Linked DNA regions of Homo sapiens: region 2 is linked to region 1. The links come from fine-mapping of genetic effects on gene expression. Tissue or cell type: whole blood. Region 1 holds a variant in brackets; the other region holds the start of a gene. All regions are shown on one strand. Distances are between the middles of the regions.

Region 1 (2,754 bases):
GTGCCTCAGGCACGGAGGCCGCTCTGGTTTTGCAGCCCATACTCAGATGTGTTGCTCCTGCAGCTCCCAGCCAGCCAGTGAGAAGGCAGCACTCAGCTGCAAAGATTTCTGCTCAGATCCCCAGCCCTAGGAAGAAAGCTCATTATTTGGACTAGGCCACCACTCACCACAGAGTAATCAGAGGGCAGCGGAAACCACCTGCCTGAAGGAGAAATCCTCTATTCAGGAACCTTGGACCTGTTCAGCTGTGCCACTTACTAGCTAGGTAACCTGAGCAGATCACTTGGCCTTTTTGGGCTTCAGTCTCCTCATCTGTGCAGTGGATATACAGATAGCTATTGTGAGGATTAAGTAAAATATTGTATATGAGAGTGTGATATGGTTTGGCTGTGTCCCCACCCCAGTCTCATCTTGAATTGTAGCTCCCATAATTCCCATGTGTTGTGGGAGGGACCCAGTGGGAGGTAAATCATGGGGATGGTTTCCCCCATAGTGTTCCCATCCATGGTCGTGAATAAGTCTCACGTGATCTGATGGTTTTATAAGAAGCTTCCCTTTTCACTTGACTCTCATTCTCTCTTGCTTGCCACCATGTAAGATGTGCCTTTCGCCTTCCACCATGATTGTGAGGCCTCCCCAGCCATGTGAAACTCTGAGTCCATTAAACCTCTTTTTCTTTATAAATTACCTGGTCTCAGGTATGTCTTTATCAGCAGCAGTGAAAATGGACTAATACAAAGTGCTTTGTGCTTATCTCCTTTCTTCCTCAACTGTCATGTGTCAGAGGCTTATCCCAATCTCCTGTTCTCACCCTCAGCTGCTTTTGTTCCAAACTGACCCGCTCCCACGCTTAGAGGCAGCCTAGGCTTGGAGGAACCCCAGGGTCTCCATTTAAAGGCTGCTTAATCTGTGTTAAAATAAACTTGAATTGAACCAAAGGTAAATGACGCAGAAAATAACAATCCCATCCAATGGGAATGGACAGGGATGATTGGGACTCTGCCTCTTTGGTCTGCTGTCTGCGTAATGGAATCCGATACCCTATGGCCGTAGCTGGGCTAATGGAGGGTGATGGAAACCAGAAGGAGGACTGGCTTGACAAAATGCAGACATCCACTGGTGTTTACAAACCCAACAGCTAGGAGCCTTCTCTGAAAGCCAAACTCGGCCTCTTCTCTCCCTCAGCATTAATTTCCAACACAAATATTTGGAAATAAAATCATTAATCCTTTTTGCCAAGTTTAGGGGGTAGGGTTGGGGGTAAATAATACCATGTCCAACATCAGACCCAGCAAACAGCCCCATGCGTCACTCCCTACAGGAAACAGCCTTGTGCAGCAGGACACTGGCGCAGTAGATGCTTAGCCAACACTGGCCAGTTCTCTGGGTGACCAGCAGAGCTCAGAGGACTTCCTAGAGCTCACCCAGAAATGCGACCCTAGCAAAGTCCTAATGCTTGGGAAGAATGAGGGGAGAGGGGAGAAAAATTGGGAGTCAAGATGGAGTCACAGAAATAACTC[G/A]GGAGCCAGCAAGAGGCTACATCTGCTACCAATAGCAAGTGGACAGCTCTGCCCTCACACCCGGCTGCTGGGACGAAATGGAAAGCAGCTGGTCTCCCCGGGAAGGTCCTGTCCCCATTTGACGTGGGCGAGTCCCATAGCCCAGTTTTCTCACATTCCTTTACTTCTATGTGAAAAGACAGGTTTCTAGGCACACACCAGGGCCTGGCACCTGCACAGCAAGGTCCTGTTTCAAAGCCTGGGGACAACAGTCATTCAGGATAATAAAGTGCAAATGTATTGCTGGGGAAGCTGGGGGCTCTGTAGGATGTGACCTCTTTGGCTTCTGATGCTCTACTCTGGGGCCTGATCGCTGGGGGCTCCTCCCTTCTCTGACCCTGTGATGGGTTGAATTGTGTCCCCCAGAAAGATACGCTGAAGTCATAACCCTTAGTACCTTGTTTGGAAATGGGGTCACTGCAGATGTAATTAGTGAAGTGAAGATGAGGTTGTACCAGAGTAGGGTGGATCCCAAATCCAATATGACTGTTGTCCTTATAAGAAGAGGGGCTTGAACACATACAGAGACAGGGAGAACTCCCTGTGACCGTGGAGGTAGAGATTTCAGCTGTGGGCCGGGAGCATCAGTCACCTTGGGGAGCTGGAGAGAAGCAAGCAGCGGTTCTACCTAGGGTCTCAGAAGCGCTCAGTTCTGCAGACCGGGGCATGTTTCAAGCCACCCAGTTTATGGTGCTTTGTTGCAGCTGCCATTGGAAACTAATTCAGGGCCCAAGCCCTAAAGCCTAATTCCACCCCCAACCTTTCTCCACACCCTGTGGGGGCGGAACCATGGTAGGCCTGAGAATCCACCTGGAGGAGGGGTCAGTTGCCCTGGGGAGTTGCCATCAGAAATTGCAGAGGCTGAGCAAGGCCTGGTGTGTGCCGTACAGAAGTGGGTGGGCATGAGGAAGGACGAGGTGGGCACTATCTCCTGGCAGGCCCCTGACCTGGGGAGGGGCTCAGGGAGGGTGGAATCAGGTGAGCAGAGAAAGGCTGACATCTTCTCCAGCTGTGGACTCTGAAATGACTGGGACTAGAACAGAATCAAGCCTCCTCTAGACTTTTCGTGAAAACCTTGGAGTCTCTGCCAACAGAAAGGGGGAAAAAGAGCCCCAAACACACCTACTTCCCATTTCTCCATTACAGTGGAGGTAGAGACTGCCTATATTATCATATATTTGACCAATTACAGTTT
Region 2 (2,754 bases), 160 kb after region 1:
AGCTTTTTAATTTAACGCTCGTTTTTATGAAAAGATTCATCTAAAGACAGAACCAGGATATTCTAATGAAAGGAGTCTATTGTTATTTCACATGGCTAAGAGCGATTGATTACAATCTAAAGAACAGTTCCGGGGTTAACTGAAAGAACTAGCTTATCCACAGAAACCCTTTCAATCCCAGAAGGAGAAATTTAGAATTTGGAAACTGAACATTAGTCATTTCTTAAGGTAAAGCCACTTCATTCCAAAGTCACTGTCTGTTCGCCCTTAATTTATCACCGTAATTTATCTAAGAGGTAAAACTGAACACCGAAAAGGTAAGATGTAGAGTGACAAAAGGAGACGGTGGGTCACAGGGCGAGTGCCCAGGTGACTTCGGGCCTCAGTCCTCTCGCCAGCAAAGGGCGGACAATGACCCCTCCCGTCCCGCCCGGGAAGGCGATCGAGGAAACGCACTGGCCAGGCCCATTTACTGATGCTCAGCAGGGTTTGCAAAAAGCCCCCAACGGGAGGTTTTCATGCTGAAAGTCCTGTTGCCCCCCCATCCCCCACCATCTAATTAACCTGCACGTTACTGTAAGGAAGGTTCTGCTTCCGTAATTTTCTTTATTTCGACAGAGGCTGGAGAAAAAAAATCATAGGCTGGAAGAGGGGAGCGATGGGCAGGCCGATCTGCAGGGCGCAGGAGCAGGCCGGGAGGACCCAGCCCTCCAAGGCTGCATCAGCGCCCCCGCCGCGTGACCAGGGCCACCGGTTTACTGCACAGCTCCCCCGTCCCCAGAACGCAGCCTCCCCGCCAACCCCAGGAACCAAGGGTGCCCAAAGGCCTCCTACCCGGAACCCCGGGGCGCCTCGGGGTCTCTGGGCCGGGTGGGCCGAGTCCTGGCCTCCACAGGCCGCGAGCGCAGGGGGCGGCGGCTCCGCCCGGTCTGGCAGGCGGGGCTGCCACATCCTCAGCCTCTCCCTGCCGCCCGCCCGTCGGCCGCTCTGGGCTGGAACCAGGACTCCGGCCTGCAAGCCGTGGGTCGCCACGCCCCTGCCCCCTGAAGCTGCGCGCCGGCCGGAGACTCCAGGGCGCCCGGGTCCGAGCCGCCCGCAGAGTAAACGGGCCGCTGAAGCGGGGCTCGTTCCCCGGCCGAGGCCCAGCGCGCCCCCTCAGCCAGCATCCCCCGAACCCGGGCCGCGGCCACCCCGCGCCCGCCCGCCTCCCCCGCCGCTGTCAGGGAACCCCGGCCAGGGCCCGAACCAGAGCCCCAGGACAGCGGCGCCCAGACGGTACCTGACAGCGCCTGAGGACAACCGGGTACACGCGGCGTCTATGAAGCGCAACAGTGACGCCGGAGAGTCACTGCAACTTAAAGGCTGATTCTGCCCCGCCCCCAAGACACCCTCGCCGCTCATTGGCTGGGGCGGAGGGCAGGATACCAATCGCGTGGGTCCCGTCCTCCGCCCCGCCCTCCGGCCGCGCATCAAGGATCTTTGCTCCTCCCGCGGATTCGATCCGCGCTCGCGCCTCCTGAGCCCGCCGGCCTGTACCTGAGCTCAGGCCCCTCGGTCGCCTCCTCTGGCGGGACGAGAAGAGTCCTTGTCCGCCCTTGCTGACGAGAAGACTGAGGCCCGAAAAGGAAAAGTCTGTTGGGCCCCCCACTGCGCGGGCCGGGTGTGGCTGGAGGCCGAGAGACGTGAGGCTGGACCGCCCGCCCTGTGCTCCTGGAGGGAGGGACCAGCCCCAGCTCTGCCCCAGCCACAGCTGCGGGAGCCCCATGCCCTTGAACCCTGATGCGCCGCGCGGCTTAGTTGTGCCTCTGAATCCACCTCCAAAAGTCGTCGCTGCCTATGGAAAACACACTGCCCACCTGTTCGCAGCTGCTGTCAGATAATTGAGTGGCAGCAACCCACTCACAGTACAGATTTGCCTGTGGTGCCCTCCACAGCCGGTTATTAAATTCAGAACACAAAATAGATATTCCGGGACAACCTCATGTTAGAATCGGAAGGGACTTGGACTTCACTTAGCCCACAACAAGATGTTAAATATTGGAAAACAGAGACCCAGAGAAGGAAAGCGACTTACCCAGTCATCCAACAGTAGGGGCAGTCTGGTCCTGTGTGCCCCTCGCCACCCCTCTCAGAGGGCAGGCGCTGGCAGCTGCCGGCACCACACTCCATTAGACCACAATGACCAGTCGGGGGCCCAGCTGGAAACAGAGGGCACACTCCAATGTGAACATTTCCTAAAACGTGGTGGTGGGGGCCCGTGGTTCATGCCTGTAATCCCAGCACTTTGGCAGACCGAGGCAGGAGGATTGCTTGATCCCAGGAGTTCCAGACCAGCCTGGGCGACACAGTGAGACCCCGTCTCCACAAAAAAAAATAAAAATTAATCTGGTGTGGTGGCACACCTATGTTCCCAGCTACTCCAAAGGCTGAGGTGGGAGGATCACTTGAGCCCAGGAGGTTGAGGCTGCAGTGACCTATGACTGCACCACTGCACTCCAGCCTGGGCAACAAAGCAAGACCATCTATCTTAATCAACCAATCAATCAATCAATGTAGGCAAGTAAACCACAAGGGATGGAGAAATAACCTGGGTCTCATGCACCAGCGAGGGCCATTATCCATCCTAGGCCCAACGGCCTCCAAGTGGGGTTTCCAGAATTCCAGAACCCAAAGAGAGGAGTGTGGGAAAGGCTATCTGGTCACCAAAGTCATCAGCAACTGCATGGGAAGGAGCTGGACAATGAGCATCTCCTG

The links. PIP is the estimated chance that this variant, and not a neighbour inherited with it, causes the effect.
Region 2: it holds the start of OAT, and the variant in region 1 is fine-mapped to the expression of OAT in whole blood (INTERVAL, PIP 0.96).

What each region holds. Positions count from the first base shown.
Region 1 is chr10:124,254,683-124,257,436 of GRCh38, forward strand. No RefSeq gene overlaps it. Among named protein-coding and RNA genes, the nearest start is that of CHST15, 160 kb to the left of the region's middle. The variant G/A (reference allele first, on the strand shown) is at 1,521.
Region 2 is chr10:124,417,594-124,420,347 of GRCh38, forward strand. OAT (ornithine aminotransferase) reads right to left here and starts at 1,330. Exons shown (of 10, transcript NM_000274.4): 1 at 1,280-1,330. RefSeq lists silencers at 890-1,429, 1,372-2,031 and an enhancer at 2,005-2,519.